Regions from separate parts of the Homo sapiens genome. Here region 2 is linked to region 1. Evidence: fine-mapped expression QTL. A gene starts in region 1. The other region holds a variant in brackets. All regions are shown on one strand. Distances are from middle to middle. Region 1 holds the start of LINC02231 (long intergenic non-protein coding RNA 2231). Region 2 overlaps LINC02389 (long intergenic non-protein coding RNA 2389).

The links. PIP is the estimated chance that this variant, and not a neighbour inherited with it, causes the effect.
Region 2: its variant is the best candidate, but not a certain one, in a credible set for the expression of LINC02231 in nasal epithelium (TOPMed, PIP 0.55).

What each region holds. Positions count from the first base shown.
Region 1 is chr12:64,989,551-64,994,935 of GRCh38, reverse strand. LINC02231 (long intergenic non-protein coding RNA 2231) reads left to right here and starts at 2,645. Exons shown (of 4, transcript NR_146276.1): 1 at 2,645-2,659. It overlaps LOC107984522 (a long non-coding RNA gene), which reads right to left. Exons shown (of 2, transcript XR_001749177.2): 2 at 4,290-5,385. RefSeq lists an enhancer at 1,782-2,308.
Region 2 is chr12:64,955,575-64,960,959 of GRCh38, reverse strand. All of the region lies in intron 2 of LINC02389 (long intergenic non-protein coding RNA 2389), which reads right to left. LINC02231 (long intergenic non-protein coding RNA 2231) reads left to right here. Exons shown (of 4, transcript NR_146276.1): 3 at 3,103-3,206. Among named protein-coding and RNA genes, the nearest start is that of LINC02231, 34 kb to the left of the region's middle. The variant C/T (reference allele first, on the strand shown) is at 2,748.

The DNA of each region.
Region 1 (5,385 bases):
CCACCTGCCTCTTGCCTGAGATAGTGCTCCTCACATCCTACCAGAGTGTCTCAAGATCTAAAAGAAGCAGAAAGTATATCTGGAAGGTTTCCATACCTGCAGCTAAACCAAGTTGAGGAAAACAGGCATTGACACCATTGAATTTGGGATGGTTTCCTATAGCTAGTTTTTTTTTTTTAATCGACTTTTATTTTCAGTTCCAGGGCACATAGGCAGGATATGCAGGTTTGTTACATAGGTAAATGTGTGCCACAGCAATTCACTGCACAGATCATCCCATTGTAGCAGGATGAGCCGCAGACAAAACCCCTCAGACACCGAGTTAAAGAAGGAAGGGCTTTATTCAGCTGGGAGAATCGGTGGACTCACGTCTCAAAAACCGAGCTCCCTGAGTGAGCAATTCCTGTCCCTTTTAAGGGCTTACAACTCTAAGAGGGTCTGCATGAGAGGGTCGTGATCGATTGAGCAAGCAGGGAGTACGTGACTGGGGGCTGTATGCACCAGTAATCAGAAAGGAACAGAACAGGACAGGGATTTTCATGATGCTTTTCCATACAATGTCTGAAATCTATAGATAACACAAGCAGTTAGGTCAGGGGTTGATTTTTGACTACCAGGCCCAGGGCGCAGTGCTGGGCTGTCTGCCTGTGGATTCCATTTCTGCCTTTTAGTTTTTACTTCTTATTTCTTTGGAGGCAGAAACTGGGCATAAGACAATATGAGGGGTGGTTTTCTCCCTTACCATCACCCAGGTATTAAGCCCAATATGTATTAGCTATTCTTCTCAAGGCTTTCCCTCCCCACACACCCCTCCCCTGACAGGCCCCAGTGTATGTTGTTTCCCCCATGTGTCCATGTGTTCTCATTGTTCAGCTCCCACTTATAAATGACAACACATAGTATTTGGTTTTCTGTTCCTTTGTGAGTTTGCTGAGGATAGTGGCTTCCAGCTCCATCCATGTCCCTGCAAACAACATGATCTCATTCCTTTTATGCCTGCTTAGTATTCCATGGTGTATATGTACCCCATTTTCTTTATCCAGTCTATCATTGATGGGCATTTGGGTTGATTCCATGTCTTTGCTATTGTGAATAATGCTGCAATGAACATATGTGTGCATGTATCTCTATAATAGAATGATTTATATTCCTTTGGGTATATGCCCAGTAATGGGATTGCCTACAGCTAGTTTTAAAACCATCTACAATTCAGATCGTCTTCAAGGTTTTAGCAGCATGAGATTTTTCAGTGACAGAGATTATAGCATTGCAGTTGGACCACTGTAATCATAGAAGCATCAGCATTCCTACTGCTAACATGGTATTTCAAGAGCTATAAAACTTACAGCATGCTGCAATGTGGCATGCAAAGTTAGCCACAAAGTGTATACATTTCCTAAAAAGACTCAATCACTCCATTCTTAAAAAGCAAAAATGGAAATGTAAGTAAAACTTTGTTTAGAATTCATTTAATTTAAAAAGGGTAACCTCTATTACACAATCAGACTTGGTGAATGCAAACCTTCACATGAAGAAGCAAGGTTTTTCTATAGGTATTCCATCAGAGAACCACTTTAAAAAGTACGTTTGTTGGACTTCTAGAAAACCCAATTGCTTCTCAATTCAGCATTTCCCCTTGAGAGCATTAAAAAGAGCATTTTTATAGGCCCTTATTTTCTTTCTTGGGGGAAAAATATCATCACTATCCCTGATTCTTAAAGATAATAGAGGTACTGAGTTTAATTTCCAAAAAAAAGATGGGAAATGAAGGCAAAAATCCTGACACCCAATGTTCCATACTAATGCTATTGAGTTATTTCTTATTCCCATCAGAGAGTGGACTTTAGAATGAAAACTGAGCCTGCTGTTTTATTTTTCGTTTACATTCATGTGGTGGCAGCATCTTAACTGGTGCTGCTATAGCTGAATGAGAAGCAAATACATATCAAAGCTCACTTTCCTCATGGGTAGAAAGCTATTTGACTAACAGATTTCAGCGGTGCCTTGGTGACAAGAAAAGAAAAAACCCTCCAAGGATTCTGGAGGAAGTTGAAAGGCAGGAGGTCAGGCTTCCACCTGCAGGTAGAATGAGTGTTTGCCATTTCCTCAAATTCCTTGAGACCACCCACTGGCATGAAGGATGGTGAGCAAAGCCTGGGGAATGAAGACTATCTTTCAAAAGGTGCTTCCTGGGAGATTTAAGGGAGAAAAAGAAAATAATTTGTTGGTTTGTATGTCAGCTAGCAAGGCTTTTGATCATTCAGTTGGGACAGTTCTGCCTGGAAGGGATCAATCTCTTTTTATTCCAAAGACTAACACCAACAGATACAAATCAAAGGAGGTATTCTTTCAACAAAGGAAATTGCAGAAAGGATGCCTAGGCTTAATTAAAATATAACCTTTTGTTTTAAGGACTTTTCTTTCCCTTGCAAAAGGGAATGCACTCTCTGAAGAAGCATATGCCAGCACTGGTGAGATACAGTTCTTCAACAAGTAAGGATCTGTCTACATTCGGGGCACGTCTTGGGGAAGCCTTGAAGGGAATCGTGCCTGGAGTCCCATCTGACTTAACTCATCATCACAGTCCTTCATCACAACATAATGAGTGTTATTACTTCCTCATGTGGCCTGTGGGCTTTGTTAATTAAAGAATGGAAAGGTAAGTAGTTCCAACCTTTTGCTTTTAATTAATCAAAAGATGTGTTTTCCATCTTCGTGTTGCTGGGCAGCAAGTAAAGTATTTAGTCTGCCTTCCAATACCCAGAAGAGTTCCGTGAAAAAAACTCAGCTGCTGTTTTGGGACTGCATAGACTACATAGCAGATGACTGGCTTTATCTTTTCTTTCTAAAGTTTAATTAATTGTATTGGCCAGTCTGCTGCCTACAATGTAATAGTATTTAGAGAAAAAGAAAGTATTTTCTCATATCATCTCATCAGTACAAATAAAGCCTTCTTAAACCAAAAGTTTATATCTTAGAGTTTCTTGGGCATTTACCATAGTGCTAGGTAATTAGGAGACACTCAGCACAAGGAAAGAAGTGGAACTTACATTTATTGAGTGCCTGCTATGCCAAAACTGGTGCTCTTTTTGTTATATTGTCTTGCCTTTCCGCTCATTTGACTTATTAAAACTTCTATCATTAGGGTCATTCCTCCACATTAAAACACTCTCTGCATTTTAAATAGAAACATATACCTGGAGGGAAAACACATTAATCCATGAACAAGCATCATACCTTAGCGAAGACAGTACCTCAGGGAGTGAGCAGGGCACTAGTATATTTCCTTTTGGAGGGAAGTTAGAAAAAGCCCTAAAGCTGGGGTAGCAAATCGGTTTTCTCTAGTGTGCCAGCCCTGTACAATTAGTGTTGCTGCTCCCTGGAGCTCTGCTTTGAGAATCAGGCAGGAGGCAGAGTCTTAGCTCTGCAGGAAAGAGAATTGCAATTGCCTAATGATGTCAGACCTGCTGCATGCTTCAGTTGCTAAAAGGAAAACTTCAGACAAATTAAATTTAACAGGGTCTAATTGAACAAAGAACAATTCACGAATTGGGCAGCCCTCAAAACTAGAACAAGTTCAGAAAAACTTTGGCCTGCAATGTGGTCAGATAGCATTTATGAACAGAAGATGGAAGTGAGGTACAGAGCTCCATTGATTACAGCTGGTGTTTGCCTTATTCAGCATTTGCTTTATGTGAACATGGTGTTTTGAGTTGGCTGCCTGTGACTGACTGAAGCTCAGCTGCTGTGATTGGCTGTGACTCATTTGTGACAAAAGTATATGCCTAAGCCAGGTTTTCAGTTAGTGTGAGTACTAAGTTACATTGCATTTCATTAGTAAGGACTCAGGTATGGAGGCATTCTCAGGTCAAATTTAGTTTAACAATCCCCCCAAATTTAGTTTAACAATGCCACCTCTCAAAACCTGGGGCATTGATACCACTCTCTGTCACCATCATAAACAAACTTATTTGGTCTCAGCATGAAATTCACAAGTCATGACATCACACCAGTTGAATAATTCTTTATGTTCTTGATGATCAAGTCAAAGTGAGACCACTCAACACTCAGTGGATGGCTGCATACAAATATTTAAGACTTGAGAGGATATGGTACACCAGGGGAGCTACTATGATGACTATCAGAAGGACAACACCAAAAATTCCAAAAGCCTGAGGTGTACTCTCTAACAGGAGCCTCTGCCAACCAAATCAATTTGACCCAAATCAAAGTTCAGGCAATATAGGTGTAGCAGGACAAGATGCAGACAAAACCCCTCAGACACCGAGTTAAAGAAGGAAGCAGTTTATTCGGCCGGGAGCATTGGCAAGACTCCTGTCTCAAGAGCTGAGCTCCCTGAGTGAGCAATTCCTGCCCCTTTTAAGGGCTCACAACTCTAAGGGGGTCCACTTGAGAGGGTTGTGATCGATTGAGCAAGCCAGGGGTACATGACTGGGGGTTGCATGCACTGGTAATTAGATCGGAACAAAACAGGACAGGGATTTTCACAGTGCTTTCCTATACGATATCTGTAATCTATAGATAACATAACTGATTAGGTCAGGCATCGATCTTTAACTACCAGGCCCAGGGTGTGGCACCGGGCTGTCTGCTTGTGGATTTCGTTTCTGCCTTTTAGTTTTTACTTCTTCTTTATTTGGAGGCAGAAATTGGGCATAAGACAATATGAGGGGTGGTCTCCTCCCTTACAGGCAGCTCAAAAGCATTTGAGTACCGTTGGTCATGGTTTTTGTTCAGGAGGTGATAATGATTAAGAACTGCAGTTTGCTGATTTAAAGAGGTATCCAATGTTGTCATTATCTTGTTAACACAAGTCATAGTAATCTGGAGAACCATTAGAAGAGCATAAAGGTTAGAACACCTTGGAAAAGCCAAGCCTACCTGCAAACCAATGGTTTGCTGCTCCTATGAACATGTCATATGTTTCTTTCCTCTGAGAAATTTCCTTTATGTATTTGGTGGCAGTGTCTAAGGAAACAGGATCCAAAACTGCATGATGTTTTATTAAGTGTTTTCAAAAGATGACTTCTACTCACCTGAACCTCTGTGGGGACTGGTTGGTCAAACCCAAGATTTTTCTCATTTTATGGATTACTTTCAAATTCCATACTACCAGTACCCTGCTAGTACCAAGACTGAGCCCCCAGGAATGCCACTGGAATCTTTCCTCAGTAGAAACTAGCTTATCTTCATAAACCCAACAATTGCTCTGTTTTTTCACTACAGCATAAGACTTAGCTAAAGCCATCCACAGATTATGGCCCCATGGATTTTCCTATAAGTAAAAGAAAGGGACTGGGACAGCAGGAAATTGGGAAGAAAGGGAAAAGATAAGACTTTCATGATGGCAGAGAAGTCTTGATC
Region 2 (5,385 bases), 34 kb after region 1:
ACGGGGTTCTTCCATGCTGGCCAGGCTGGTCTCCAACTCCTGACCTCGTGTGATCTGCTCATCTTGGCCTCCCAAAATGTTGGGATTACAGGTGTGAGCCACTGCTCCTGGCCCAGAATGGCTATTATCAAGAAGTCAAAAGACAACAGATACCGGCAAGGTTGTGGAGGAAAAGGAACACTTTTACACTGTTGGTGGGGGTGTAAATTAGTTTAACAATTGTGGAAGACAGTGTGGCTATTCCTAAAAGACCTAGAAACAAAAACATTCAACCCAGCAATCTCATTACTGGGTATATACCCAAAGGAATAGAAATCGTTCTATTATAAAGTCACATGCACATATATGTTCATTGCAGCACTATTCACAATAGCAAAGACATGGTCTCAACCTAAATGCCCATCAATGATAGACTGGATAAAGAATATGTGGTACATATACACCATGGAATACTATCTAGCCATAAAAAGGAACGAGATCATGTCCTTTGCAGGGACATGGATGGAGCTAGAAGCCATTATCCTTAGCAAACTAACACAGGAACAGAAAACCAAATACCACATGTTCTCACTTATAAGTGGGAGCTAAATGATGAGAACACACGGACACATGGGGAGAACAACACACACTGGGGTCTGTCGGAGGACATGGGGTTGGAGGAGGGAGAGGATCAGGAAGAATAGCTAGTGGATGTTGGGTTTAAATACCTACGTGATGAGATGATCTGTGCAGCAAACCACCGTGACACACGTTTACCTATGTAACAAACCTGCACATCCTATACATGTACTCCTGAACTTAAAAGTTGGAAATTTAAGAAAAAAAGTCTTTGTGACTAATGAAGGTTTTTTCTTCTATTTTTATTTTTGTCTATTTTTTGAGATGGAGCCTCACTCTGTCATCCGGGTTGGAGTGCAGTGGCACAATCTTGACACACTGCAACCTCTGTCTCCCAGGTTCAAGCAATTCTCCTGCCTCAGCCTCCCAAGTTGCTGGGAATACAGACGCACACCACCACGCCTGGCTAATTTTTGTATTTTTTTAGTAGAGATGGGATTTCGCCATGTTGGCCAGGCTGGTCTTGAACTGCTGACCTCAGGTGATCTGCCCACCTCAGCCTCCCAAAGTGCTGCAATTACAGGCGTGAGCCACTGTGCCCGGCCTCTTCTGTTTATTAAAAAAGATTTGTTGAGTCTATGATGTGTTAGGCTTTATGGAAGATACTCAGAATCCAAAAATGTAGTAATTTGACCAAGTGGATTTACAGAAACAAAATGAAACATAAATGGAAACTTGGAGGCATCCAAGTTTCTAAAACTAATTAAGTGGCCTATACCTCCTGGCAAGTAGAATCTCTCAAATTGTGGGATACTCAGAGACTCATCTGCAGTCCCAAAGTCAAAGTTTGGTGGAAAGCATGGTGGTCTGTTTAAATAACACACTCCTCCCAGGGCCTAACAACACTGGTTGCCTCTGGGGAGGGAAAATGGGAGCAGAGGGATAAATAAATGTGGGGGTTTTTTCATCCATTCAAACAACATTGAGCAACTACTATGTGTCTGTAGCTCTTTGAGGTCTTAATAACTGTGTGGTCTTGGGCACTTTTAAACTTTTTGGACCATAGTTTATAATTAATCCATCAAGGATAATGGGTGTTTAGTAATTATTAATTTATTTCCTTAATACTTGTAAATTTTAAATTGTAAATTGCTCCAAGTATAAAATTCAGGCCTTATTTATCTATAAAGGGAATAAAGGAAAATTCAATTAGACTCCTCAGATAATCTGTGGATACTTGAGTACTTCTGAAAAAGATATTTCTTCTGAGATGGAAACCAGGTCCCTGACCCTGCAATTTGGTCTTTCGTCAGGGTCCTGCTCAAGGGCCATACATCAAGTCCACTCCAAAAGCAAAGGCTCCTGACATTTGTGGCACTGAGGGCTCCATGCAGCTCAGGTTTTACACATTCACATACAGAGACTATCTCCTGCCAGGTTCCCTGCCTATCAAGCTTAGGCGATGAGCTGAAGGAGAGGGCCTCACGATACGTGGCAGCAGGCTTGTATTTTCCTAAATGCCAAGTCCCCACCAAAGCCTGAATGCAGTCTCCAGAGTTTGGCCAGTCCCTGATTCCTCCTTTGCACCACAGTCAAAAAGGGTACCCAGGTCCTTATGAGACTCAGAGGACCAGAGCCAATTGCAGCCAACATTACAGCTGGTGGACAGCACCCTACACCTCCTGGCAAGTAGAATCCCCCAAATTGTGGGATACTCAGAGACTCACCTGCAGTACCAAAGTCAAAGTTTGGTGGAGAGCATGGTGGTCTGTTGAAATAGTACACTCCTCCCAGGGCCTAATAACACCAGTTGCCTCTGGGGAGGGAAAATGGGAGCAGAGGGATAAATGTGGGGTTTTTTCTTCCATTCAAACAACATTGGGTATCTACTATGTGCCTGTAGCTCTTTGAGGTTCTAGAGACACTGAATGAACAAAAAAAAATGCAAAAACCTTTGCCCTCGTGGAGCTTATTTTCTATCGGGGACCAAGACGATAAATAACATACATTTTTAAATGTCAATGTTAATTATAAATGCTAAGTGATAAATGTCCATCATACAGCATTGCATTTACCTATTTACTGATCTGTCTCTTTCACTACAATGGGAACAACTGGAGGGCAAGAATCAAACCTGTTCTTGACTCCAGGCCTTTGCACTTACTGTTCCCTTAGCCAGCACACTTGTC[C/T]CCAAGTGCAGCAATTACACAAAGCAGGGGGGAAATTTGTTAACTGGCAGAATAAATGAAGGCTATGCCTAAGCATGTGTTCCAATAAATGTTTTCAGGAGCACTTGCATATATGTGCATACATGTGCACAAACAAGTGAAACGATGAGCTATGTGGGGATAGACACAGAATAGCCCCCACAGTGGTCCCTCAAGAAAGATGAGATGCATCATGAAGGGGCTGTTCTGTGGGTGTGGGGGTGCAGGAACAGAGTGCAGACAGGCTTCTGCCCTGGCCCTCAATGTGGAAGGGTGAGAACAAGAGATGAGCACACAGCTTTAGTCTGAAAGTCTCTCTTGCTTCCTTTGTTTCCAGTGCCATGACTTAAGGAGTGAAGAGAGGGCATAGAGAACAAGCAGAGTATGCAGGGCATATGCTGAGATAAGAAACTGGATCTGAAACAAGTTGAATACTTGCAGGTAGGAAGAAATGGATCGCACCAAACCAAGGTTGCTCTGGGTCTCCACATTCCCTCTGGTTCAAACCTCATTGTTAAGTCGGATTCCCATTCATCCTCCTCTTCCCTGTCCTGTTCCTGTTCTGAACATAGGCTTGAGGGTGACTTATGTTCCTCTCCCAGCTAAGCTCTCAGAGGACAGGAGTTGGGCTGGGAACTCACTCTGGACAGCAGAGCTCTCCAAAGATTTTATAGGAAGAACTACTTTTTATTTTCTCAGTCATTAAAAAAAAACTCCAGTCATTTGTACATATTTTCAAAAAACATAGAAAATAATATTTTTTAAAAGTCATTCATAATGCTGGGTGTGGTGGCTCATGCCTGTAATCCCAGCCTCGGGAGGCCAAGGCAGGTGGATCATGAGGTCAGGAGATCGAGACCATCCTGGCCGACATGGTGAAACCCCCTCTCTACTAAAAATAGAAAAATTAGCCAGGCATGGTGGCACATGACTGTAATCCCAGCTACTAGGGAGGCTGAGGCAAGAGAATTGCTTCAACCAGGGAATCAGAGGTTGCAGTGAGCCAAGATCACGCCACTGCACTCCTGCCTGGCAACAAAGGGAGACTCTGTCGCAAAAAAAGAAAAAAGAAAAAAGAAAAAAAAATCACTCATAATCTACCACCCAGGAATACCACTGTTAATATTTTAGTGTACTTCCTTCAAGTCTTTGTTTTTACACAATTAAATTCATTTTGAATATATAATCTGCAATTCTGCTGTTTTTATGTAATATGCTGTTATAAGCTTTTTCTCATACTATTTTCAATTCTTCCAAATTTCCATTGTTGTTGCTGCAGAATAATCTACCATTTATCTATTCATTCTATTGTTGGACAATAACTTTCCTAAAAGTTTTGTGTGGTCTTGGATTCTGTGCCAACTGAGACAAGGGCCTGGGTGGAATGGAAGGTGCCAAGCCTGACAATACCTGCATACCAACAGGGAGTCTGGCAACCATGACAAGTAGTGTGAGGGTGGGGGCCGAGGAAATGTAGACGCCATCTTGGAGTCCTACCACGCAGAGCTTCAAGATCTGCTGGTGGATGTCGATGCATTGTTGGAAGACTCCGGTCAGATCTAGCACTGAACTAGGTATAGCAATAGTATAAGAAATGCTGTATGATGACAAAGCTGAGAAAGTGGGAGAGAAAGCAGTAAAGCAGCCACACTCTGAGGTACTCCAATTAAGGCTGTAGGAATTTACTTTTCTATTAGTTTCATGTACTGCTTCAACTTTAACTTTGGAGGCATTCCTGTATTTATGAGAACCAATTAAATAGTACTGACTTGGGAGCACTTAAGCACCACAATGGGAGAGCCACAGTGCAGTTATTTTCACGGTGGAACGGTGGGCTAAGGTGACCTAAGGGTCTTCTCCCTGAGTCCTCATAGGTTGCTAGTTAATAGTAGTGACATCTCATGCACCATTTACATTGTTTTCATTGTGTTAGTTTTTTGTTGTTTTTTATTGTATTAAAAACTTGAATTAGTTAAACCTGCAGCTGTTTTTGTGTAACTTGTGAGTCAAGAGTAGTTTTTACAAAAAGAAGAATATGAGACAGAGACTGTATGTGTCCTACAAAGCCCAAAATATCTACTATCTGGCTATTTACAGAAAAGTTTCCTGACCCTCAGCTTAAGAAATAAATAAACCTCAAATTTCAGTAGCTTTGCAAAATAAAGTTTTTTTCTTGTTATTCAGTTCAATGCAGATGTTCCCAGCCCAGAAGTGATACATATTATCTCACTTCTGTGGCAAGAAGCAGTCACATGCTCACATTTGCAGCAAAAAGGCTGGAAAATGTAGCCTTTTGTCTGGACAATGACCCTCAAGGACACTTTCCCTTCTTTATTGTATGTCAGAGCTCAGACCTCCCCTATAGAGGGGGAAGAATGTATTTTGGGTGGACAGATAGGTCTCTCTGCCAAGGTTCAATTACATGTATGTATATACACTTAATTTTTAAAGTAAGTATGTGTTGTTAATTTCAATGTAAATTCCTTGTGTTTTTTTAACCTACAAGAAGTTTGCCTGCAAGGAGTTTTTTAGAAACAAACTACTGAAAGGCTGGGGAGGGGGCTGTAACTTATTGCAATTAAGGAGAAGTCAGACAAACATTAACGTGTGAAAACGCTGA